5 separate regions of the Homo sapiens genome follow, and regions 2, 3, 4 and 5 are each linked to region 1. Evidence: fine-mapped expression QTL. A gene starts in region 1. Each other region holds a variant in brackets. All regions are shown on one strand. Distances are from middle to middle.

Region 1 (5,103 bases):
TGTTGCAACTACTCCATTCTACCGTTGTAGCGTGAAAGCAACCATATGCAATATGCAGAGGATTATAGGTGGCTGTGTTCTAAGAAAACTATTTATGTGTAATCTTGGCACTTTGGCAGCCAAAGTGGGCAGATTACTTGAGGCCAGGAGTTCAAGACCAACCCTGGCAACAAGGCAAGATCTTGTCTTTAGAAAAAAAAAAATTATTCAGGCATGGTGGCACTCGCCTGTAGTCCCAGCTACTTAGCTACTCAGGAGGCCGACATGGGACGACTGCTTCAGCTCAGGAGTTCAAGGCTGCTGTGAGCTATGATTGCACCACTGCACTCCAGCCTGGGTGACAGAGCAAGACTGTGTCTAAAAAAACAAAACAAAACAAAAAAAACAAAAACCAACCCCACAAAACTTTATTTATGGACACTGACACAGGAAACTTACAACATTTTCAAATGTCATAAAATATTATTCTTTTGATTTTTTTTCATTCATTTAAAAATGTAAAAACCATTTTTAGGTGGCAGGCCATAGAAAAACTGGCAGCAAATTGTGCCGATTCTTAGTAAAAAGAATTTTAAAAAGAAAAAGAAAAACAGGCAGCAGGCCAGATTTGATCCTCTGCCCTTAGTTTGCCAACTCCTGCTCTAAACCCTTTCTACCTCAGTTCAGTTAAAAATACCTATTGCATATGATAACCCTGAGTGTACAGAGTAGGAAAGAAGGTAGAAGAAGTTGAATCTGCCATGTGTTAAGGATTTTTGTTTTGTTTTGTTTTTAAACTTCGTTCTGCAATAATTTCAGGCTTAGAAACAAAAAGTTGAAAAAAAGAGTAAAAATAATTCCTTCATTGATTTTCCAAATGTTAACATTTTACCACATTTGCTTTTCTTTCTCACGTTCTTTTCATGCCTGGAATACCATTTCTCTCCCTCTCTCTCTCTCTCTTTCTCTCTCTCTCCATTTTTTTTTGTGAACTGTTTGAGAATCAGTTGCAAAGATGATGCCCTTTTGTTTCCTAAAAAACAAGGATGTTCTTTTATATAACCATTACCAAAATTACCATTACCGTTACCCAAATCAATACACTAATACAAAACTATTATTTAATATTTAGACCGTGTACCATTATCAAAATCAGAAAGTTAACATTGATGCGGCCGGGCACAGTGGCTCATGCCTGTAATCCCAGCACTTTGGGAGGCCGAGGTGGGCAAATCACTTGAGGTCAAGAGCTCCAGACCAGCCTGGCTAACATGGTGATACCCCATCTCTACTAAAAATACAAAAATTAGCCAAGCCTAGTGGTGGGTGCCTGTAATCCCAGCTACTTTGGAGGCTGAGGTGGGAGAATCACTTGAACCTGGGAGGCGGAGGTTGCAGTGAGCCGAGATTGTGCCACTGCACTCCAGCCTGGGTGACAGAGTGAGACTCTGTCCCCCCACCCCCCCAAAAAGGAAATTAACATTGATGCATGGTACTAATCTAACCTACAAGTCTAATTCTGATTTCATCAACTGTCCCACTAACATCCTGTATATACCAAGCTTCTTATCGTCATCATCTCTGGTAATTTCCCCAATTATCCAGTGAATTTGATATTATTAGCCCTGCTTTACCAACAAAGAAACTAAGCTCAGAGAGGTTAAGTAATTTGCCCACAGTTACACAGACAGTAAGTGGCAGAGCTGGAATTCCAACTCAAGTGTACTTCCTCCAGAGCCCTTGTTCTTTAATACTGAACTAGAATTGCAGAGCTTGGAAAGGACTTCACAGTGCAAGGACACGGAATTGGTACTACAGGCATGAAAAGAAGCCAGGCACGGTGGCTCATGTCTGTAATTCCAGCATTTTGGGAGTTCCAGGCAGGTAGATTGCTTGATCCCAGAACTTCAAGACCTGCCTGGGAAACGTGGTGAGACCCTGTCTCTACAAAAAATACAAAAATTAGCCGGGTGTGGTGGCGCACGCCTGTAGTCCCAGCCACTTGGTAGGCTGAGACGGGAGAATTGCTTGAGCCCAGGAGGCCAAAGCTGCAGTAAGCCGTGATTGCGCCCCACTCCAGCCTGGGTGACAGAGTGAGACCCTGTCTCAAAAAACACAAAAACAAAACAAAAAAACAACCCCCCAAACCAAAAAACAAAAACCTAAGAAAAGCCAGTAACTGATACTTTCTCAATCTCTCAATGAAATGTCCTTTCTGATACTTTCTCAATCTCTCAAGGACATGTCCGGTAGGAAAGGAGAAAGGAGTGAACAAATAGAATTTTGGCTACTTTGTTATACAATGTAAAAAGGCTTTTTGGAACACCAAGGCATAAACTAAGGTTATTTTAAAAAAGAAAATTTTTTTTTGATACGGAATTTCGCTCTTATTGCCCAGGCTGGAGCGCAATGGCTCGATCTCGGTTTACTGCAACCTCCACCTCCCGGGTTCAAGCGATTCTCCTGTCTCAGCCTCCTCAGTAGCTGGGATTACAGGCGCCTGCCACCACGCCCGGCTAATTTTTGTATTTTTAGTAGAGACGGGGTTTCATCATACTGGTCAGGCTGGTCTGGAACTCCTGACCTCAGGCGATCCGCCCGCCTCGGCCTCCCAAAGTGCTGGGATTACAGGCGTGAGCAGGATTTTCATTCTAACAAGTTCCAGGTGAGTTGATACAGTGGCTCCAGGGACCGACCACATTTTGCTAACCCCCGGCTTAGAGTTATTCAAAGAGCCCGTATATGAGACGCGGATTCCATCTAGGGCGTTTAGGTTTAATGATTAACAATTTCCCTCTTCTGCTCTCTCAAGGCAGCCAGGGAACAGGGAGACCATGATTCATGTCCAATCCCCGAGGCGCGTTATCAAGCTGCTGAAAGCAGGCCCTCCGGACTGCAGTTCCAAAGGGTCCCTTCCCAGGGAAGACGCCTGCAAAACCCAGATAGTACTATCCTGGAGTCACGCGGCGGCGCGCAGCCTCCTAGCCGCCCCCACCCGCCCGGCTCGGCCACAGCGGGGCGGGGCGCGGGGCTGAGCAGGCGCGAGGGCTGGCTGCTGGGCCGACGAGGGGCGGTGCCAGGCCGTGGGTCCTTAGTCAAGTGACGCGAAGCGGCCGGCCTGGGCGCCGACTGCAGAGCCGGGAGGCTGGTGGTCATGCCGGGGTTCCTGGTTCGCATCCTCCCTCTGTTGCTGGTTCTGCTGCTTCTGGGCCCTACGCGCGGCTTGCGCGTAAGTCTGCGGGACCCGGGTACGGGGAGGCATTGCTAGGGGACAGGCTGGCGGGGAACCGGGCTGGGGTCGCAGCCACCCGCGGTCCCGCAGGGCGGGGAGCCTGAGCCCCGAAGTGCCCCCCAGCAGGCTCGCGGCCGGCGGAACGCAGGCAGTGGACCGGCCTTCCCGTCGGGGGCGGGCCGGGCGGGGCGCGCGTCCTTCCAGGCAGCTCGGTCGCTTGTGCGTTCCGCTCCGGCCGCCCTTTGCGCTTGGATCCACTTCCCCATCTGTAACGAGGTGTTGAGACGAGGTGCGTGTAAACATTTCCTAAGTTGGCTTTCCGGGAGGGGATTCCAAGTTGCGCGGGTTAGAGGGTGCCTCCGGCTCTGGTTTGGGGCGCCCTCGCTTTCCCAGTTGGTGCTCTGCGGAGCGCTCCGGAAGGAGAAAAATGGGGTCAGGAGAGGCCCTTGCAGTGGGAACATTGGGTTATTTCCCCTCTGGGTGCTCTCCCTCTTCGTGCATCTTGTTCCTTTCTCACCACTCCCCGTCGCCTGCCCTTTGGCTTGGGTTTTTCTTTGTATTTGTGGGACCGTTTTCCTTCGGCGTTTGGGGGTCCAGGTTGAGGGGGGGAATAGGCAGGCTGCCGGGGGATGCCATCGTTGATCGGGGCAGGGCTGGCGAGGCGAATAGGTGAGGTGCGGGGCGTGCACAGTTGGTGGGAGAGGAAGGACAGCTTCACTCGCTGCGTCCGAGCTGAGGCGACTGGCTGAGGGGCTCCAAAGCGCTGCCTGGGGAGGTTTGCATCACACCTGCGGAAAGGAGAGTGGGTAGTTGCAAGCTGCTCCTCTGCACGTTCCGCGGACCAACTTTGGTTCCTCCAGGGTGTAGGTGGGCTGAGCCTGCAGTATGCTTTAAGTAAGAGCTGGTAGCATTTGACACCGTTGACTTGTAAGTTACACCCTTTAATAACGCTTTCAATAACGTGCCTAGGGCAGAGAAAAGTGGTACATTTATCTACAACCAAGATTGAACATCTTAAGTATTTGGAAAACAGCTGCTGAAAATGTTTTCATTTTGGGAAAAAGTCAGCACAGATTATTTGCTGCTCCCTCTTCACCCCGTCTGTGGTTCCCCTACCCCAGTATGTAGACAGAGTTTTCTTGTCCAGAAGGCCCGTAGGACCTTAGGAGTCAGAGCTAGCCAGCTGTGAGAACCACTGGGGAAGGTGGAACTGGGGCACAGTTCAGGAGAACAGTGGCAGGGTAAGGGGCTAGGGGAAAGGCAGATCTTAACCAGTATCTGGGAGTGGGGGTAGGGAGAGAGAGAAGGATTTATGAACCAGGAACAGGTGGACAGGGTCAATCTGTCTGATGTGAGCTCATCAGTCTTGTGCAGCGTCATTGGGTCAGGGTGGATGCCCTGTGGCTGCCATACCTGAGGCCCACACAGGGAGGCTGGCATCACCCCAGGAATTCTCATTTCAGGTGCCTAGGTGTCCCTCTTGGGCTTCTGTGCCCACAGCTAAAGAAAGATACCAGCAGTCTAGCTTTCCATTATCTCCTTGTTTACATTTCTTTAGGGTTCACGCCATTCTCCTGCCTCAGCCTCCCGAGTAGCTGGGACTACAGGCGCCCGCCATCACACCCGACTAATTTTTTTCTTTTTTTGTATTTTTAGTAGAGACGGGGTTTCACCATGTTAGCCAGGATGGTCTCGATCTCCTGACCTCGTGACCCAGCGGTTCTCAAATTTTAACTAAATTTTAGCTGTCCTAGAAATTAAGAGAATATTCCTTTTTTTTTTTTTTTTTTTTTTTTTGAGACAGAGTCTCGCTCTTTTGCCCAGGCTGGAGTGCAGTGGCACGATCTTGGCTCACTACAACTTCCACCTCCCAGGTTCAAGTGATTCTCCTG
Region 2 (5,103 bases), 890 kb before region 1:
ATCCCAGGAAAACTTTTAGTCTTCATCAACAACAAAGAAGACTTCAGTCCCAGCTTCCTGAAACACACTCCCTTCTTGGCTTCCATTATGTTTTCAGCTGAAATTAACAACCACCTCAACCAAACAAAATGTATTATCTTGTATAACAGGAAGCATCTCCAGAGGTAGATCAGCCTTCAGAGCTGGCTGATTCATCAGCTTAATGTCTTCAGGGACACAAGCTCTGTCTGCCTCTCGGCTTTGCTATCTATGCTATCAGGAACCTCTGAGAGAAAGGGATAAAGGAGAGAAAAGAAGCAAAGGGTTTCTTGTTCAAAAAGAAGTTAGAGCCCTTGGATCCCTCCCCAATTTCATCTAACCTGGAGACTATATCCACCCTCACCCAACTCTGGATGTTTATACTTTAGAGCAACAGTTCTCAAATTTTTAGTCTCAGGCCTATTTTACAGTCTTCAGAATCACTGAGGACCCCAAAGAGCTTTAGTTTATGATGATTACAAATACTGATATTTGTCATAGGATAAATTAAAACTGAAGTATTTAAAATATTCATTTATTAATTCACTTCAAAAATAAAAATAATAAACCCATTCCACATTAACATAAATATTTTCTGAAAAACAACTTTATTTTCCAAATCAGAAAAACTTTAGCTAGAAGAGTGGCATTATTTTATATTTTTCAAATCTCATTAATAACTGGCTTAATAGAAGATAGCCAATCTACTGTCTGCTTCTGCATTCAATCTCTTATGATATCACACATCATGTAGCCTCTGAAAAACTTCACTGTACACACCTGAATGAGAATGGAAGGGGCAAATACAGTCTTGGTGTTATTATAAAAACAGCTATCATCTTGCTGACCCCCTGAAAAAGTCTCAGGGACCCCCTAGGGGTCCACAAACCATACATTAAGAATCAATCCTCCAAAGAGGATAAAAGTGGAAATCTCTGGATTGGAGAAACCAGAAACAATTGAGGGACAAACTTACTGTACCAAAAACATGAGCATTAACTAAAAAGCCTTCATTAAATGTGGAAATTCAATCTCTTCTCCCTTTCCCAGACTCCAGCCCACCTTACATTCCAGGGTACTGTCAGTCAAGCTGAATCCTTCAACCAGCGGACCTAAACCCCTTCTCAAGATTCTAGCCAGTCTAATAGAGAAGGTCTAAAGATACTGCCATCAGGATTTCCCCAGTGAAATGGTACAATCTTCAAACTATGGTGAAACCCATGAATGGCAACATAGAACTTCAAATGAGCTTTTTTTCTCTTTCTTTTTGTTACAACTTAATTGTGGTATAATTGATATACAATAAACTGCACATATTTAAAGTGTACAATGTAATGAGTTCTCACAGATGTATATACTCATTAAGCTTTTACCAAAATCAAGACAATGAACATTTCTATCACTCCTAATAGTTTCCTCAGGCCCTTTTGGAATCCATTTCTTCCTCCTCCCCTGACATTGGACAACTGCTAATCTGTTTTCTAACACTATGGATTAGTTTGCTTTTTCTAGAATTTTATATAAATAGAATCCTACAGTATGTACTCTTTTGGTGGTCAGGGAGCATCTGGCTGCTTTCATTCACCAATTTCTCAAAAGAGAAACAATTTTTAAAATCTTGGAACTGCTGAAAAACAATCTGGGGCATATAATCTGTGATTCAGAAATGGGGAAAGGAGGGAATCTGTGGAAAGCAGGTACCACTTGGGAGAGATTCCCAAGCAGGCAGAGTAAGCAAGTCTATTATAAGGGATTCCATATTCCCCAAAATATTCCCCTCATATGATCTGAATTTTTTTAATGAGCTTTTTGATGCTCTTCTTAATTATCAGCAGATGATCAAGTTAACAAGATACCTTGTGAGGAAAGCTTGTAACATGAATAATAAAAAAGACAACAAACATGCAGGGGAAAAATTAGAGAAAGTAGAGACTATGCAAGAAGATAAACTCTTTTAAAAACTATCATTAATATCTTCAGAGAAAATACTATATGTATTAAAAAGAAAAGAATGTATTTTAAAATATTCAAAGAAGAAAAACAGAGCCCTTTGGAAATTAATAATACAACAGAAATGAAAACCCCAATAGAAGTCTTGGAAAGTGAAGTTGAGAAAACCTCCCAGAAATTACAGCAATGGACAAACAGAGGGAAAAGAGTGGGGACGGGGCCAAGATGGCCAACTAGAAGCAGCAGCGATCATAGGCTCCATTTGAAAAGAACTATAATACCATGTGAATCCTGCACCAACAACCAAAGTATCCAGGTTCTCATCAGAACTGACTAGGTGGCTGGCATGATCCACGGAGAAGAAGGAAGAGCAGTGTGGTGCAGCAGCCCACCTGAGAGCCACTTGGGGCAAAGGAGCCCCCACCCCCCCAGCCAAGGGAGGCAGTGAGTGAGCATGCTACCCAGCTGGGGAAACAGTGCTTTTTCCACAAAACTGTGCAACCCACGAATCAGAAGATCCCACTCGCAAACCCACGCCACCGGGGCCTTGGG[T/A]CCCAACCCCAAAGCCATGCAGATTCTCAACAGCCACTCAGCTAGAATCTGCTTAAGCCTGCTGAGTTCCCAGGGGAAGGGGCGACCAGCACCACAGCTGCAGCTACCTGTTCTCTAAGCCCTTTGAGCTCCTTTGTGGGAGGGGCAGCAGCCAGCACTGAGACTCAGAACTGCCTAACACACTAAGCTCCCTGGGTGGGGGAAGGGCGGCATCCATCTCTATAGTTCCAGGCCACACTTTTCCCCTGCTGGAGCCAGGGAAGCTGGACTGCTTAGTCCCAAGAGATGTCCCCCACAGCCCAACACACCACTGTGCAGACTGTAGCCAGAGCACCTCTTCAGGCCTGACCCGGACCCATCCTTCCTCACTGGGCAGGGCCTCCCTGCAAGAACTCCAACTCTAGCCAGAGGCTCAGGGACAGAACCCTCATCTCCCTGGGCCTGAGCCCCTAGAGGGAGGGGTGGCTGCAGTCTCTGCGGACCAGTAGACTTAGCCTTTCCTCCTGGTAGTTCTGAGGAATCCGGGCAGCCCAGATGAGTGGGCTCCCCCGCCCAACAAAGCACACCCTCTCCAAGGACAGTCAAAGTGCTTCATTAAACAAGTCCTCTTCCCCATGCCACCCAACTGGCTGAGACCCTCCAACAGGAGTTGTCAGACACCCTACACAGGAGTGATCCTACTGGCATTAGGTTGGTGCCTCTCGAGGTCAGAGATCCCAGAAGAAGAAGCAGGCACCCATCTTTGCTGCTTTCCAGCCTCCTTGAGTGACATTTCCAGGCACAGGAGCCAACCAGATGAATAGGGCCCGAAATGAACCCCCAGCAAACCACAGCAGCCCTATAGAAGAAGGACCTGACCATTGAAAGAAAAACAAACAGAAAGCAACAACAGCATCAACAACAAAAAAAGTCCCCACAAAAACTCCAACCAAGGGTCAGAAGCCTCAAAGATCAAAACTAGACAAACTCATGAAGATGAGAAAGAATCAATTAAAAAATGCTGAAGACCCAAAGTGCCTCTTCTCCTCCAAATGATCGCAATGCCTCTCCAGCAAGGGCACAGAACTGGATGGAGGATGAGATGGACAGATTGACAGAAGCAGGCTTCAGAAGATGGGTAATAAAAAAACTCTGCTGAGCTAAAGGAGCATGTTCTAACCCAATGCAAAGAATCTGAGAACGTTAATAAAAGGTTACAGGAGCTGCTACTTAGAGTAACCAGTTTAGAGAGGAACACAAATGACCTGATGGAGGTGAAAAACACAGCACGAGAACTTTGTGAAGCATACATAAGTATCAACAGTCGAATTGACCAAGTGAAAGAAAGGATATCAGAGTTTGAAGACAACCTTGCTGAAATAAGGCATGCAGATAAGATTAGAGAAAAAAGAATGAAAAGGAATGACAAAGCCTCCAAGAAATATGAGACTATGTAAAAAGATCAAACCTATGATTGATAGGAGTACCTGAAGAAGATGGGGAGAATGGAAAAAAGCTGGAAAACACACTTCAAGATGTTATCCAAGAAAACTTCTCCCACCTAGCAAGAGAGGCCAACATGCAAATTCAGGAAATACAGAGAACACCACTAAGAGACTCCATGAGAAGATTAACCCCAGGACACATAATCCCCAGATTCACCAAGGTCAAAATGATGAGAAAAAATGTTAAGGGAAGCCAGAGAGAAAGGCCAGGTCACCTGCAAAGGGAAGCCCACCAGACTAATAGCAAATATCTTAGCAGAAACCCTACAAGCCCAAGCCAGAAGAGATTGGGGGCCAATATTCAACATTCTTTTTTTTTTTTCTTTGAGATGGAGTCTCGCTCTGTCGCCCAGGCTGGAGTGCAGTGGCGCAATCTCGGCTCACTGCAAGCTCCGCCTCCTGGGTTCATGCCATTCTCCTGCCTCAGCCTCTCCAAGTAGCTGGGACTACAGGCACCCGCCACCATGCCCGGCTAATTTTTTGTATTTTTAGGAGAGACAGGGTTTCACCATGGTCTCAATCTCCTGACCTCGTGATCCGCCCACCTCGGCCTCCCAAAGTGCTGGGATTACAAGCGTGAGCCACTGCGCCCGGCTTCAACATTCTTAATGAAAAGAATTTTCTACCCAGAATTTCACATCCAGCCAAACTAAGCTTCATAGGCAAAGGAGAAATAAAATCGTTTCCAGACAAGCAAATGCTGAGGGATTTCATCATCACCAGGCCTGCTTTGAAAGAGCTCCTGAAGGAAGCACTAAATATGGAAAGGAAAACCCAATGCCAGCCACCGCAAAAACACACCAAAATATAAAGATCAATGACACTATGAAGAAGCTTCATCAACTAGTGTGTAGATAGCATCATGATGACAGGATCAAATTCACACATAACAATACTAACCTTAAATGTACATGGGCTAAATGCCCCAATTAAAAGACACAGGCAAATTGGATAAAGAGTCAAGACCCACCAGTGTGCTGTATTCAGGAGACCCATCTCATGTGCAAAGACACACATAGGCTCAAAATAAAGGGATGGAGGAAAATTTACCAAGCAAATGGAAAGCAAAAAAAAAGCAGAAGTTGCAATCCTAGTGTCT
Region 3 (5,103 bases), 52 kb after region 1:
AGGAGTGGGGAGTTCACTGCCCATCCCACCCACAGGAACATGCACCTGCCTGTGCAGGTGTGTGTCTCCTTCCTCCACACCTGTGTGTGTCCACAGCTGTGTGATGGCTGCCTACAGGGTCCAGGCGCTCCTGTACTTCTCACACAATGTGGAATGTTGATGAATGCAAAGTCTCACCATTTCTTTCACCTTCCCACCTCACACCCTCTTAAGTGGCCAGAGGAGGCTTGAATCTGCACCATTTCTCTGCGATGCTGCCCTTTGGTGGTCTAAAAACACCCAAAGTAAGATTCTGCCAGTAGAACTAGAACAAATACTTAGTCTTCCAATCCATCCTTAAACCCACTGGACAGCTTCCCAGCCTGGGCTCCCTCGGCCTGTAAAGTGTGCTTCTAGAGGTCACACTTTCCCAACTCAACCTGGCAACCCCCTCCATGCTGGGCTCTGGCTAAGGACTCAAGGGCAAGTGAGGCACAGTCTCTGCCCCTGAGGTGCAAGCAGTGTAGCATGGAGAGAGACATAACAAATAAGAAACACAGCACAGCATGGGTGACTACCACATTAGAAGCAGACGAGGGCCACAAAGAAGGTGAGTTCCTTGCAGCAACGGATGTGGGTTTTTTTTTTTCTTTGTGTCTCACAGGAAGGGATGTGTTTTAACCTATGAATCCCTTAAGGCAGGCAGACCTGTTGGCTGTGAGTTGTCTCTGATTAATAAGAAATGGGGGAAATGGTATGACTAGATCAGTTCAGTTGGTTGAGTGGTCCAGATCTTTCAAAGTTTAGATTCTGTGCAGAGAACTAATGAAAAAGTCTTTGGAGCTGACCTGCTTGATCTGATCCTCAGCCTTGCTCATCTGTCACCTCCACAACCAGTAGGTCACCCAAGGTGGCTCCATCATTGGTGAGCTGCATCCAAGGAATTTATTACTAATCCTAGGTAAACTATCATGTTTTGTGCCTCATTGATGTACAAATTAGGTTGGACAAAAGACTATTCCTAAAATAACTTCATTCTCACACACTTGCATTGCAATATGCTCTCTGAAGTAGAGGAGGAAGGCACAAAGCCTTGCTGGTCTATGGATGGCAGCATCAGCGTCACCTGGACACCTGTTAGAAATGCAGTTTCAGGCCCCACTCCAGACCTGCTGAATTAGAATCTCTGGGATGGGGCTTAGGAATCTGTTTTAACAAGCTCTCCATGTGACACTTAAGCATGGGTAAGTTTTTGAAGTACCACCCAATGTTGCAGACAACCTCATACCTGTGAACATCATCCCTGACAAGGTCGGGATCCTCTGGTCTAGACCCCGCCCCTTGCACAGTGACTGCAGGGGCATTTGTTTTTCTAGTCCTTTTGTATACTCAGTGTTGGCATTATCCATTGGTCTTTGTTGTAGGTCAAGTTCCCAGGGAAACAGACTCTGAGATTACCTGGTAGAAAGCTTATTGATTGTGCTCTCTGGAGCAATGCCTGTAGGATAGAGAGGGAGAAGTGGGGCTATGATGCAGCTTCACAAGTGGCCTCATCCAATCTTAGAGGGAGCTCTGCAGCTGGGTTGGCTGTTCGAGGCACATTGGTCAGTTGTTGGATGTGGGCTATCCCTGAGGGTTGTAACCTTGGGTGAGGCAGCTCAGCACAGGCCAGCACCCAGAGACGGACACATCTGAGAAATGTCAGCAGACAACAGCCCTAGCTGCTGGGAGAATGAGTGAGTGCCCTGGTTCTAAAGGGGGATCCAAGAGGTGCACCACAGCCCCATCGACAGTCTTTGTAGATGCAACAAAGGCCCTCGGATTATGTTTGAACCTCTGTGGCTGATGTGGGTCTGCTGTCATCTCCCGCTGTGTTTGGTTTAATAAGCCCTGGGTTTTCTGCTGATCCATGGCCTAGTCATCTGTGTCTTCACCACTGAGCTTTTCTCAGCCACAGCTTGAGGACGTGAAAAAGTTCAGAGTTGACAGGATTAACAGTCAGAGATGGGGGTCATATCATAAGCCCTGCCATTACTGCTTGTGAGGTGTTAGCAGATTTTTGTGGGGAGCTTCAGATTCCCTGCTTGTCCAGTGGGGGTGATACCTGCTAGAATCACAGCTGTGAGCTTCTGTAGAGAGTGGATGGAAAGAGTCCTTGGTAAACTCTAAGGTGCCTGGTAACTGCTACCTGTAGAAAGAAATTCCTTCCTCTAAACGTTGCATCCTGAGGGTCACGTCTGTGTCTCCCAACAAGTGGTTTTAATGTGTCTTCTAGTTTTCTCTCTCTACAGTGCTGAGCTCATGGATCCCAAAGAACTTGTCCCAGAGCTGCACCATCAGTAATAACTAGTGGCACATTTTTGTCTTCTAGGGGCCAACTCACCCTATGCAGCACAGCCCACCAGCTACGACTATGATGCCCCACTGAGTGAGGCTGGGGACCTCACTGAGAAGTATTTTGCTCTGCGAAACATCATCCAGAAGGTGGGTGCTTTGTATGAGCTGTGGTGGGCTGATCTTGGACAGAGCCTCTTTTGAACTCACTGTGGCTCTGTGGACAACTTCCTGCCTGGAGCCCTCCTGTTTAAAAGGATGGATGAAGGGAGGCATCAGCTAGACTTGGGTTTGCATCTTGTACCCACGTGGTTAAGAGTGAGTCTATGAGCAGATGCTTATAGGAGAGTAGGAGATATAAGACATGTATTTAAAAACTGCAATATATAATACAGTGTTAAATGCTACTTACA[G/A]ATTCACTTCTTATATGGTGAGAATTCACCCGGGGAAATTTCTGTCTCCATTTTCTTCTCCTTCCAGGCCAGATTATCTTTCCAAAAGTTCAGGTGAGAGGTAGGGTGATGGGAGAGAATGCACAGATCCTCTTGAGACTATAGCCCCTATTAAGGCAGCATGGATATATGGGAGCCCCTATCCTTGAGACACAGCTAATGTACTTCAATATCAAAAGAGGTAAAGCTAAGCTCTGGTTTCTTTATTTAATGCATCATCTGAAAAAAGTAAGTTTCCAGTAACCAAAGTGTATAAGAATTATTTCTCACTAGAAAATAACTCCGTCCTTATTTGCAAGAGAGAAGAAGATAAACTATTTTCCTTTTTATGTGTGGCCCAATATACAGACTATGTGATTTCAGAATGAGGAACACCAGATTTTGAACCTGGACACTATTTCTTCAACCTTAAGCCAATTGTGTAAATTCCCTTTATATAAAAGTAGAGGTAGCCGTACTTACCTCACAGACTTGTACAGTTTAAAAATAAATGGCACTCAATAAATGTTTGTTTTCTTCTTTCATAGTCAAATAAATGAACAATAATTATTTATTTACCTAAAAAAAAAAAAGAGTGAGTCTATGAGCAAATCAGTCTACTGATTGTTAATTTGTAAAACTGGGATTACAGCATCTGGTTGTGCTGTAAAGCTTGAAAAGAACGTATGTAAGCCATCCAGGACAGTTCCTGACACATATATGTCTAATAAGTGGTAGCCGTTAACTATTATTTATCTTAAATGTAAGAAAATGTGTGTCTACTTAAATAGCTGATGTACATAGGAAAAAAAATCTTCAGATACTGTGAAGCATGGTGCAGATGTCAGCTGTCAGTGAAGCTTCATTTTTCTATTTGGAGCAAGTGATTGCTGTTTCTGGACTGCATCTGAACTGCTTAGTCCTGCTAGCGTTGTACCCTTTTGAGGCACCTAATGCACCTAGGTGGGGTTTCCTGTCTCTGCTGTGGGTTAAAAGAAAAAACCCACAGTTTTTATGCTCAGTCACCTGAGTTTTGAAGTTAAAAAAACAAAGGTTTTCTGCCTATAAATGGTATGGTTTTTTTTGTTTTAAGTATGATGTCGTTTTAATTTTAAGCATGTGTTAAAATGAATATTACAAATTTTTTAAATATAAAAAATACAATCTAGACTTACCACACTTATAATTTGTCCATTTCATCTAAATTTTCAAATGTATTGTTAAAATGTTGCTTATGTTATTCCTTTATTATGGGTTTAATCTCCACAGAATTTATAGTAATGTCTCCCAAGCTCTCCCTTGTATGTTTGTTCTGTTTTGAAGCTTTCTGTTCCTATCTTTATTATTTCCTTCCTTTATTTGAAGCTTAGCTTTTTAATGCAGCCTTTCTTCTTTTCTAATATAAATATTTAAGGTTATAAATTTCCTTCAAGTACTGCTGTGGCTTTATCTCGTAAGTTTTGATGTGCAATCTATTTCTTACTGTTTGCTTCTAAACATATCTATTTTGATTTCTCTTCACCATTGATATGTGTTTTTTAAATTACTGGAAATAAGTACTTTCCTGTTTTTTTGATTTCTAGTCTTTTTGCATTCTGGTTAGAGAATATAGTCTGTGATACCAATCCCTTGAAAGCTGCTGAGCCTAGTCTTAGAGCCTGACATACACCAATATTAATGGTCAATGTGCGCATAAAAAGAAAGTATATTTTACAGTTGTTGACTATATTCTACATACATGTTCATCAGATTAAGTTTATTAATGGTGCCATTGATATCTTTGATCTGCTTCCTAATTTTTTGTCAGTTCAGTCTACTATTTAGTGAGAGTTGTCCTCATGTATTTCCCTTTGTAGCTCTGCCAGTTCTGAGGTTATGTTATTAGGTGGGCAAATTGAGAATTACATCCTTCAGTACTTAATAGTAAAGGGATTATATAACCCTCTATTTCTAATAAGGCTTTTTGCCTGGAAGCCTTTTTTTTTTTTTTTTTTCTTTTTTTGGTCTGTTATTCATTAACACCATTTACCTGCATACTTTTGCTTGGTATTTTTCTGAGGTATCTTTCCCAATGCTGTAATTTCATCCTTTTTATATCCTTTGTTCTGTTTACATGTGTCCCTTATAAACAGGATATAATCGAATTTTTAAAATATCTAGTTTGAAATTTCTTGTCTTTTAACTGATATATTTATACATTCTCATTCATTGTACTTCTTGATATACATAGATGAATTTCAATTATCTTATTTTATAATTTCTATTCGTTTACCTTTTTGGCTCTTTCTTTCCCTTTATTGCTTTCTTTTAGATTGAGGTTTTTTGTTTTGTTTTGTTTTTTCCTCTTATTTCTTTCCCC
Region 4 (5,103 bases), 91 kb after region 1:
TTGGCCTTCTACTCTGCCTCCTTCATTCCTCCTCCATGTAGAATGGATCCACTACTGGTGTCTCTGCTGGTTCACCAGTCACTGAGCACAGCTAAGGGACTTCTCAGCGCATTCATCGTGGCTACCATCCCCTCATTGTTGCCAGCCTCCAGAAGCCCTCAGATTTGCCCAGCAGTCCTTGGTCTCTCTCTGCTCCTTTCCCCCACTGGCCTTTTCAACCTTCAGCACCCTCCTTAAGCCACCTGACTCTCCACCCTCTCCACTGAAGACCTCATCCTCCTTGACTGCTATCAGGTGTAACTCCTTTGTTCCCTCAGCTTCCTGTCAGACTTATCTCTCTGCCTCCAACCTCATTTCCTGCCCAGTGGTATCTAGGAGGAAGTCTGAATTCTGAATCTCCTCCCCACCTTCTTCCTTCAGGGCAAGATCCTGTTCTCATATTTCCTCTACCTGCATTTTGTCAGCCTCTCCATCTTTCTGCCGAGTCCCATTTTTCAGCCAAAAAGTGGTAACTAGGAGCTCTAGGACCTAAACACAAAGAAAGCCCTCCCTGGATCTTCCCCCTTTAGCTAGCAAGTTCTTGTTCCCTCGATCCCTCTTTTTCTCCCCTCCTAATGCAGTAGAGACCAATGGAAAAGTGTGGGATGTGTTGGAGGTCAGAGGGAGGTTCATCTTGGCCAAGTCTTAAAGGTGTCACACGCAAGAGTTACTGACCCAGGCGTTCTGCTCAACGCTTTATAGACACTATCTCCGTAGCCATCAAAAGAGGCACCTGTGGTAGATGGATCATTATCTCCAGTTTGCAGATGAGTAGCTGGAGGCTTAGATAGCTAAGTAACTTGTACGAGGTACAGAAGTGCTCAGTGGCACATCTACCTGAGCCCCAGCCGTGTCTTGAAGGCCCATGTGAAAAAGCAGGCAGCATTGAGAACCGGTGAGGAACTCATACTCATTATCTAGGCTGGGGCTCTTTACTTATTTGGTCAGTCTGATGAATGCTCTGCATCTCCAGGCTTGAAAGTACATCTCCACACAGTATTTGTGAATGTGTCAAAGGGTTCAGACCCCCAAAAGCCCATCTAATCCATATGTCCACTCAAACACTTGTACACAACTGTTCATTGCACCGTTATCCATAATTGCCAAAAGGTGGAAACAGCCCAAATGTCCATCAGCTGAGGAATGAATAAACGAAATGTAGTACATCCATACAATGGAATATGATTCAGCAATAAAAAGAAATGAAGTATTGATACATGTTACAACATGGAAGAATTTTGAAAACATTAGGCTAATGAAAGACGCCAGTCACAAAGGACTGTATGTTGCATGATTCCATTTACATGAAATGTCCGGAACAGGCAAATTCATATAGACAGGAAGATCTGTGATTGCCTAGAGCAGGGAAAAGAGAGTGTTGGTTGGATGGGAAGAGAATGTTAAAGGGTACAGGGCTTCTTAACGGAGTGACGAAATGTTCTATAATTGACTTTGGTAATGGTTGTGCAGCTCTGTAGTATACTAAAGACTGCTGAATTGTATGGTATATGAATTCTATGTCAATAAAGTGCCACACACAAGGCCCATCCAAGAAGTTTGTGGACTTTGGACTGAATGCGTGTGAAGGTCCAAGGGTACACACACATCCTACCTAACACAGAACCAATGTGGTTTCTGTTTTCTGGTGCACAGTGGTCCCTGCTGCTGGGGACAGTCCCAGGCCAGCTCTGGGGCTTCTAAATGATCAGCCACCTCAGAACAGGCAGATCCCACTCCCACACTGAGTGCTAAGCTCTGACATTTGAAAGAATGAGCACGTTAGCACATGGTTTGAATGCAGGGAGCTGGCAGTTGCGGTGTGGGGTTGGACAAAATGATCCCTGAAGCCCCAGCTGTTTCTAAGGCTGTGCACTAACCCCCACATCCTTCATCAGGAGAGGCCCTTGTCAAAGGCCCTGGCACAGGACTCTATGCTCTTCCTATTCATTTTACTGTAAAGAAACTACCTTGATTTAGAGAGCAAAGTCACTGATAAGGGCGATTCATAAGATTAAAAAATCACTTTTGTTTACACTGGCTTTACTTGAGTCGGATGTGGCTTTCTGGTTAATGCCAGATGTGAATGAATATCAACTGGGACTTCAGTAGAAAGGGGTCAGGCATGTTCTGCTCTGTCCAGCAGACACAGGGCAATGCTTTGACCTCACTGAGTTCTTATCTGACTGGAAAGTCCATTAGATAGGAAGCGTTCTTCTCCAGTGCTTTCCACAATATGTCCTGTATGCCAGTGGTCCCCAACCTTGTTGGTATCAGGGACTAGTTTCGTGGAAGACACTGTTTCCATGGACTGTGTGGTCAGGGGTGGGGGGGTGGAAATGGTTTTGGGATGAAACTGTTCCACCTCAAATCATCAGGCATTAGTTAGATTCTCATAAGGAGTGCACAGCCTATATCCCTCGCGTGCGCAGTTCACAATAGGGTTCCTGCTCCTATGAGAATCTGATGCTGCTGCCGATCTGACAGGAGGTGGCGCTCAGGCAGTAATGCTCGCTCACCTCTCACTGTGCGGCCCGGTTCCTAACAGGCCGCAGACCAGTCTGTGGCCTGGGGTTTGGGGACCCCTGCTATATGCCAAACCTGAAATGTCATGTTCTGCCACTGCAGCAGTGCTTGTGCTATTTATCTCTCTTTCAGCTGGGTGTGGATAAGTCTCCTGTCAATATCCTATGCAGCCTTCAACATTTTGTGGTAGGTTTAGGTGCATGACAGAGCATGGTGTGAGTGGGATAGTGTCCATTTTTCCTTAACCAAAATTATGCTTTGAAGAGTCAAGAATCAAAATAGAATACTGATGAAAAGTAATTCTGTATTTTAAAGATAAATTGTCCCACCTTCAAGATGTAAAATAACTATGAAATAAAACAATGTATGATAAACGGTTGAAAGAAATTCCTTCTTTTAACTGTTTGTTGCATCTTGCTTTTGAAATTTCCTGGC[C/T]GACGCGATGGCTCACACCTGTAATCCTAGCCCTTTGGGAGACCGAGGTGGTAGGATCACTTGAGCTCAGGGGTTTGAGACCAGCCTAGGCAACTTAATAAGACCTCATCTCTACAAAAAAAATTTTTGAATTAGCTGGGCTTGGTGGCATGCACCTGTAGTCCCAGCTACTTGGTGGGAGATGGGAGGATTGCTTGAGCCCAGCAAATCAAGGCTGCACTGAGACATGATTATGCCAGAAAAGAGTATGTAAAACTTTTAAAACCTTATCAGTGTTAGTCACTTGGTCTCAATCCATTTGGAGAGACAGAGGTATAGAAAGAGCCCAAGAGGATTATAAGAGTCTGTAAGAGATATGTAAACCATGCAGTTGGGCCTTGGAGAGGAAGAAATTATAAGTGCTTAAGATTGCTGGGAAAGGTCTGGTCTTCCTAGTGGGAAGGATATTTTGTGCAGAGGGATTGATATTTTTCAAGGGAATAGTATAGTAAGAAATATATTTGGTCTTTGTCCCTGGTTCCAGGGCCCTAAAACCCTTGGAATTTTCTGAGTGGTAGGAGTGTCTTTTGTTATTCATAACTAGCCTCTTTCAATCCCACCTGGGTTTGTGCTAATGAGGCGACTTAGGATGGAGCCCCTAGATAACCATAGGATAGTTACAAGGGCATGATGGCACCTGCAGTCCCAGCTACTTGGTGAGAGGTGGGGGGATTGCTTCTCCTGACTTGCGTGCCCAAACTTCTCCTGGTTTTCTTCCCTCTCTTTGCTCCTTCTCAGGCTTCTCTGTCAGCTTCTATGTTGCAGTCCTCAGGACTTGGTCCTGGGCTCTCTTCTTACACTTTTGGGGATTGTCCTCACAGATGTGCTGGACATGCTTACATTTCCTTTTCCAGCTCAGCTCTTACAAGGCTCTGGAGCCCACCTTTGGGGGTCTCATAGGCACCTCCAGCCTGATAGGTATAAAACAGAACTCTCTCCCTGTTACCCCTGAAAGCTACTCTTCTGCTGGAGAAGTGGTCCAGAGAGAAGGAACAGAGCTGGACTTGAGTGTGGCAGTAGGGAGGGAGGGCGGTCCAGCTTCAGGAAATAGTAATAGTACCAGCCACATCTGAGAGCTTACCATGTGCTGGCTACAGTACTGAGTGCTCACAGGTGTCTTCTCACCCAGCTGTTCTCAGCAATCCTGAGAAAGGCACAGACATGGCTGAGGAAGCCCCAGTGGGATTTGGTGATTGATCAGTGAAAGTGGGACTGACTAAGTAGTGGATGGCTCTACTATTTTTAAATTGAGTTTTTAAACGTCACTCACTTTCCTGAAAAGTAGCATGCTTAGGCACCTTCTGACCATGGAGATGTGTATCAGTTAGCTTCTGCTGCATAACGAGCCACCCAAAACTTAGTGGATTAAAACGACAACAGTTTATTTAGTTCACGATTTTGAGTATTGGCAGACCAAGTAGTGGTTTTGCTGGTCTCAGCTGGGCATGACCACCTGGGTGTTAGCCATCTGTCAGCTGAGGCAACAGAGAAGATGAGACCATCTCTCTTTCATCATCCAGCAAGCTAGCCTAGGCTTGTTCACATGACTAGCAGGGTTCACACGACTGAGCAGGGTTCAAAGAAAGAATGCAAATGCGCAAGGCTCCTTAAGGCCAAAGTCAGGATTCACATGTCACTTCTTCCACGTTGTTTGGCCAAAATATGTCACTAGACCAGCCAGATCCAAGGAATGGAGAAACATGTTCTACCCCTTTTTTTTTTTGAAATGGAGTCTCACTCTGTTGCCCAAGCTGGAGTGCAGCGACACGATCTCAGCTCATTGCAACCTCCGCCTCCCAGGTTCAAGCGATTCTCCTGCCTCAGCCTCCTGAGTAGCTGGGATTACAGGTGCACACCACCATACCTGGCTGATTTTTGTATTTTTAGTAGAGATGGGGTTTCACCATGTAGGCCAGGCTGGTCTGGAACTCCTGACCTCAGGTGATCCACCCACCTTGGCCTCCCAAAGTGCTGGGATTACAGGAGTGAGCCACCATGCCCAGACAGATTCTACTTCTTGATAGAGGGACCCACTAATAATTGGGGCCATCTGTTCAATATCCCACA
Region 5 (5,103 bases), 46 kb before region 1:
ATATTGACTGTACTATCACCCGGGTCCTCAGGGGACATCACTAGGGTAGGGGTGGAGGTGCTTTTCAATCCCCAGTGAAAGGAGGCCAACTTCAGAGAGTGAACGAGGACCCCCCAGCATGCCAAGTCAACCCATACGTGGAACAACAACATGTACAGAGAGCTCACCCCAGGCTCACAAGACAAGGACCCAACAGTACCTCTGCAGGGCACAGAGGTGGAGTGAGTCACAACACCCAACCCTGCCTGGGTCCCTGTGGACGTCGGCTTTCATTTTCTCACACAGCTGGGAAGGACACTGCAGCCTGAGGCTATAAGGGGAGTTCACAGCTGCTGGGCACACTATTTACAGACTCAGGAATCCCGGAGCAGGGCGTCCACTCGCTGGGTCCCCCACTACTTTCTAGTCCTGTCTCATCACCCTCTTCCCCACTGAGTTCAAAAGGAAGTTTCTCTGGTGGAGTAAAGGTTGGGGTGAGGAAAGAAAGGAGAACCCGGCATCCCGTGGGTGAAGGCCATCTCCCCCAGCAGGAAGCCACGTAAGATCTGACGCATCGCTGGGATTGGGGGCTGCTGTGGACACGGTGCATCCACCAGTAATAACACTGACTCCTCGGGCCAAACACCCCCGCTGGGAGTACAGATTTTGTGGACGTGGGCAACTTCAGCCCAAGACAGAAGTGGTAGGGGACTGTCCTGGGTGGGTACCCTCAAAGGAGAACCTGATGCAGGGATTCTTGTGCAGGTGAGTGAGGACGTGGTGTCAGAAGGGATGAGGAAAGCAGGATAGAGCTGAAGGAGAAACAGAAGGATGTGCCCGAGTTCCCCGAGGTTGGTAGAGTGTTCTGGGGGATAAGGGAAGCCCAGAAAAAGCACAACGTGTGAGTGTTCCACCCCAATTAACCACCATTACACAAAAACCCAAACACTCTATCCTTTTATTCCTTCCCAGGCTATTGCAGGAAAAGTCTTGTTTCCCAAACGCTGTGCCTTTCTCCTCTTGCCTTCAACCCTGGAGGGGCCCAACTACACAAGTGGCTTATTTGGAGAAGGGAATGAGGTTGAATAAAGAAAGCTCAGCTTCCAGAACACCACACTCTCTTGGTTTTCTCTGACCTTAAGGTAACTCCTTCTCAGTCCTTTGGCTGATTTCCCATTTCCCAGAGAGCCCAAGGGCTCCATCCATGGCTCTTTTCTGTTGCTTCTCAGTAATACTCAGAGACAATCTCAGTGGCCCCTCCAGCTGCATGGCTTTAAATGCCACTGACATGCTGATGGTTCAGTAGGGGGCGCTGTGGTGCCCTGCCAGATCCCTTCACACAGCCAGTGCCCAGGACCCCCACCCCCAACACACTACCATGCATGGTAGCTGCCAGATGCCTACAGCCTCTTTTCCAGAGACTTGCCCTCAACTGAAGTCACTTGCCTTCAAATGTACCCACACTCCCAGAGAACTTCTCACAGCCAATAAATGACTGATAAAGGCTTTCACAGGTTCCTTCTGAGAGCACCCCCAACAATAAACCAAGTGCATTCAGATCCCTGTCTCGAGCTCTGCTGCAGACCTGACCTGAGAGAACTCTCCACTTTGATTTGCAGCCAGAACCTCCCATTCCAACCACAGACAGCCTGCTTTGCACCAAATTCCATACTTACCCAGCCCATCCTTCCCTATTTCAGTAACTGGTAACTCCATCTTTCCTGCTATTCAGGCCAAAAACCTTAATGTCATCATTAACTCTTCCTTCTCTTACACTCCACATTCAAACTCTCAGCAAATCCTATTGGCTCTTTTCAAAATAAATCTAGATATTTGACCACTGCTGTTGCTGTGGCCCAGGCCCAAGCCTGGAACCTTGCAGTAGCTTCCTAACAGGTCTTCCCTCTTCCTTCTGCCCTTGTCCACTAAAGTTTTTCACAATATGGCAGCTAGAATGACCCTTGCAAAATATAAATCAATCAAGGCACTCCTCTGTTCAAACCCTCCAGTGGTTCCCATCTCACTTAGCAGAAGCCAAGGCCCTCCACCACCTGTCCTC[C/T]CCAGCCGCCTCTCCTTCCATTCTACCCCTGCCCACGACTCTGCTTGGTCTCCCTGCTCTTTCCTGACCACGTAGAGCAAGTTCTCACTTTGGGGCAGTGCACATCCTGTTCCTCTGCCTGGAATGCCTTGTCCAGGATCCACTTCCCTAACGTCTCTGCTCAACGTCACATTCCCAGTGAGGCCCCATTTAAAACTGCAGCCTCATCTCCAGGATTTCTTACTCCCTCCCCTGCTTTATTTTTCTCCACAGCAATTATCACTACATGATACCTTGTATATATTTATTCCTATGTATTGGCTATCTCTTTCTCCCTGTAGAATGTAAGCTCCATGAGCACAGGGAACTTTCCCTGTTATTCTGTGAAGTATCTCTAGTTCCCAGGTCAATGCCTAGCACACAGTAGGTACTCAATAAATATTTACTGAAAGAATGAATGAAACTAGACAGCTCTGGCTTTCTTCCTTTTCCAACTCGGAGACTTATAACTAAGCATTGTCCTCAAATGGGATCGGCCAACCGTTGTAATTTTGGAGATGCAAAGTGGGGCAAAAGCCACATTTCTGCACTCTACACTCTCTACTCAACTTGTTTTTCAGTGGGTGCTAGAATTGGTACAAGTCAGACCAAGTGAAGACCATTGTGAGGCTGGAGAAATTTAGCCTATGTCTTCCACCATCTTTCCCGGATGGGGAGAAAGGAGACTAAAATCTGGAAAAGCAAATAAGCCAAAGGAGGTTTTCACAATTATCATCTTCTAGGAATGTTTTTCTTATTTAAAAAATAATACTGATTTTCTGGGAAAAACAAAAAAACAAGCCAGAGAAGACTGCCCTTCAAACCAAAATGGTAAGAAAGGCAGCTATGAACATGGGGAAGACAAGTGTGAACATGAGGAAGACAGGGATGAAGGTGTGAAAACAGATGTGAGGATAAGAAGACAGGTGTAAAGGTGAGAAAGAGGCCGGGCATGGTGGCTCACGCCTGTAATCCCAGCACTGTGGGAGGCCAAGGCAGATGGATCATCTGAAGTCAAGAGTTCGAGACCAGCCTGGCCAACATGGCAAAACCCCGTCTCTACTAAAAATACAAAATTAGCCGGGCGTGGTGGCACATGCCTGTAATCCCAGGTACTCGGGAGGCTGATGCAGCAGAATTGCTTGAACCCAAGAGGCGGAGGTTGCAGTGAGCTGAGAACGTGCCATTGCACTCCAGCCTGGGCAAGAGAGCGAGACTCCATCTCAAAAAAAAGGTGAGAAAGATAGGTGTGAACATGAGGTGGCAGGTGTGAAGATAGGAAAGGCAGGCTCACCCCTGATGACATGCAGTTAGAGAGACGGGGGCTTCCCTTTCACTTTGGAGAGTAAAGAGAAGGCTCTGAGGTATCAACAGCCTGGGCTGTTGGGAAAAGGACAAAGAATCTGTGTTTCCTGAACGCCAAGAGGAAGTCTCTTTGGTTGCTGTGGGCTAGCTGGTCTCCTCCAGTTCCAAGAGGTCATCCACATATTCCACAACTTCTCCCTGTAAGAGACAACAGGACAACTTTATTAAATGGGCTATTGGACTTTTAAAAGTACTGATGAGCAGAAACAGTATCCCGAGAGGCCATCACCACTGTCTGCTTTGGCTGAAACAGGTTTTTTCTGCTGGTCTGGGGCCCAGAGGACCTGATTTCTCCCTGTGGAGGGGACCTCGGCTTCCACTCCATTTGAACTTGGTATCAAGTGCTCTGCGAGATCCGCCAACATGCTGTGTGAGGCGGACAGCCCAGCCTGTGAACAGCTCTACTAAGTGGCCCTCCTGTGTGCATCTCTGCCTACTCCCCTTCCTCCCCTCTCATGTGTGCAGGTCTCCCACAGGAACATTTTCTATCTGTTCCCTTTCTGCCTTGACCACCAGAACCCAAACTTCTCAAGGACCAGGGGACTGGGTTGATTTTTCTTCCCCAGAGTCCAGCACACAGAAGGTGCTCAATACATGTGTTGAAGGATGAATGATTGAGTGCTTGCATACATACTGCTGGTGTGACTGAAGCAATCACTCCTCTTACAGGAGAGACACACAGGGATAGTGGGATCCACTTGCCCAGTGTCGGTACCAGGAGCTCACCTGCTCCCTCCTTCTGCAATCAGCCTTATACTTCAACTTGAAGCAGCCCAGCACCCTTCCCAATTTCTTTCTCCACATTGACTTCTCTTCTATAACCCTCCTGGACCACCAGCTGATGACACCCATTCTCTTTTCTGCAGAGAATGAGTGAATGACCAAGGCTGAGGCCCCTTCCATAAGAGTCAACACAGACTGGCCCCACCAACCCTGCTAAAACTCGACCTCCTTCACTGAGCTCACCATCCCAGGCCAAGAGCCTGTTGGCTCCTTTTGATGTTTTAACACAGAGAAATTTATAAAAATCTTGCAGCATTTGGGAATAACTGGAAAACCTATCAAGTACATGAGACACAAATGGGGGGTCTTAGTATTATCATCAAATACTTCTACTATGTCATGCCTGAGATTAGAAACTCAAACTGTAGACACTACAGCTTGGAAAAATTGTTTTTCAGTTGCTTTCTAGACCCCAAAAGGAAAACACAGCATAGTAGAGGGATTATGTGTATAGCTATGACTTCTGCTTAGGGAGTTACTATATCCTGCTGTGTGTCTGTTGTGACTTGCGGGATGATGGTATTGTTTGCTTTTAGCTCACTAGTAATAAGTGCCCGAGGCAGCACAGACGAAAGAAATGCATCCCCTGCATGGCTGTTGTAGTGAATACTGTTGGGGCCTCACTCAGATCTCCTTCCCAGTGCACTCATCCCCAACTCCTGTGAGGGCTGCTTGCTAATGGCTAGCAGCTGCCCCTTCTCTGGGCAATTGCCTTTGGCCAAAAACAAAAACAAAAACAAAAAAAAACAGCAGTCTTGACAGGGAGGTTACACACCAGCCCTTCCTGGCAACGAAGAACGAATGACAGACTGATAAGGGGGACTACAAAAGGCAAGAACAACTCTGTGGTGCAATTCATGCTCCAGAGTCCCCCATGGGAGCAGGCGAAGCTTGACTCC

Direction of the effects. Positions count from the first base shown, and alleles are read on the strand shown. Sizes are in standard deviations (SD) of each study's normalised expression. Not every link is listed here.
With allele C in place of T in region 5, the expression in neutrophils of the gene that starts at base 3,073 in region 1 is higher (moderate effect, 0.49 SD a copy in BLUEPRINT).

The links. PIP is the estimated chance that this variant, and not a neighbour inherited with it, causes the effect.
Region 2: its variant is the best candidate, but not a certain one, in a credible set for the expression of GLB1 in monocytes (Quach 2016, PIP 0.56).
Region 3: its variant is the best candidate, but not a certain one, in a credible set for the expression of GLB1 in whole blood (INTERVAL, PIP 0.57).
Region 4: its variant is the best candidate, but not a certain one, in a credible set for the expression of GLB1 in fibroblasts (GTEx, PIP 0.54).
Region 5: its variant is the best candidate, but not a certain one, in a credible set for the expression of GLB1 in neutrophils (BLUEPRINT, PIP 0.69).

Annotation. Positions count from the first base shown.
Region 1 is chr3:33,095,116-33,100,218 of GRCh38, reverse strand. It overlaps GLB1 (galactosidase beta 1), which reads left to right and starts at 3,073. Exons shown (of 16, transcript NM_000404.4): 1 at 3,073-3,208. The coding sequence starts at 3,134. It overlaps TMPPE (transmembrane protein with metallophosphoesterase domain), which reads left to right and starts at 3,073. Exons shown (of 2, transcript NM_001039770.3): 1 at 3,073-3,500. RefSeq lists a silencer at 2,876-3,485.
Region 2 is chr3:33,986,979-33,992,081 of GRCh38, reverse strand. No RefSeq gene overlaps it. Among named protein-coding and RNA genes, the nearest start is that of LINC01811, 170 kb to the left of the region's middle. RefSeq lists an enhancer at 2,788-3,390. The variant T/A (reference allele first, on the strand shown) is at 2,521.
Region 3 is chr3:33,043,480-33,048,582 of GRCh38, reverse strand. It overlaps GLB1 (galactosidase beta 1), which reads left to right. Exons shown (of 16, transcript NM_000404.4): 10 at 2,351-2,463. Among named protein-coding and RNA genes, the nearest start is that of GLB1, 51 kb to the left of the region's middle. The variant G/A (reference allele first, on the strand shown) is at 2,727.
Region 4 is chr3:33,003,686-33,008,788 of GRCh38, reverse strand. All of the region lies in intron 15 of GLB1 (galactosidase beta 1), which reads left to right. Among named protein-coding and RNA genes, the nearest start is that of CCR4, 55 kb to the right of the region's middle. The variant C/T (reference allele first, on the strand shown) is at 2,998.
Region 5 is chr3:33,140,851-33,145,953 of GRCh38, reverse strand. It overlaps CRTAP (cartilage associated protein), which reads right to left. Exons shown (of 7, transcript NM_006371.5): 7 at 1-3,559. The coding sequence ends at 3,506. Among named protein-coding and RNA genes, the nearest start is that of CRTAP, 29 kb to the right of the region's middle. The variant C/T (reference allele first, on the strand shown) is at 2,039.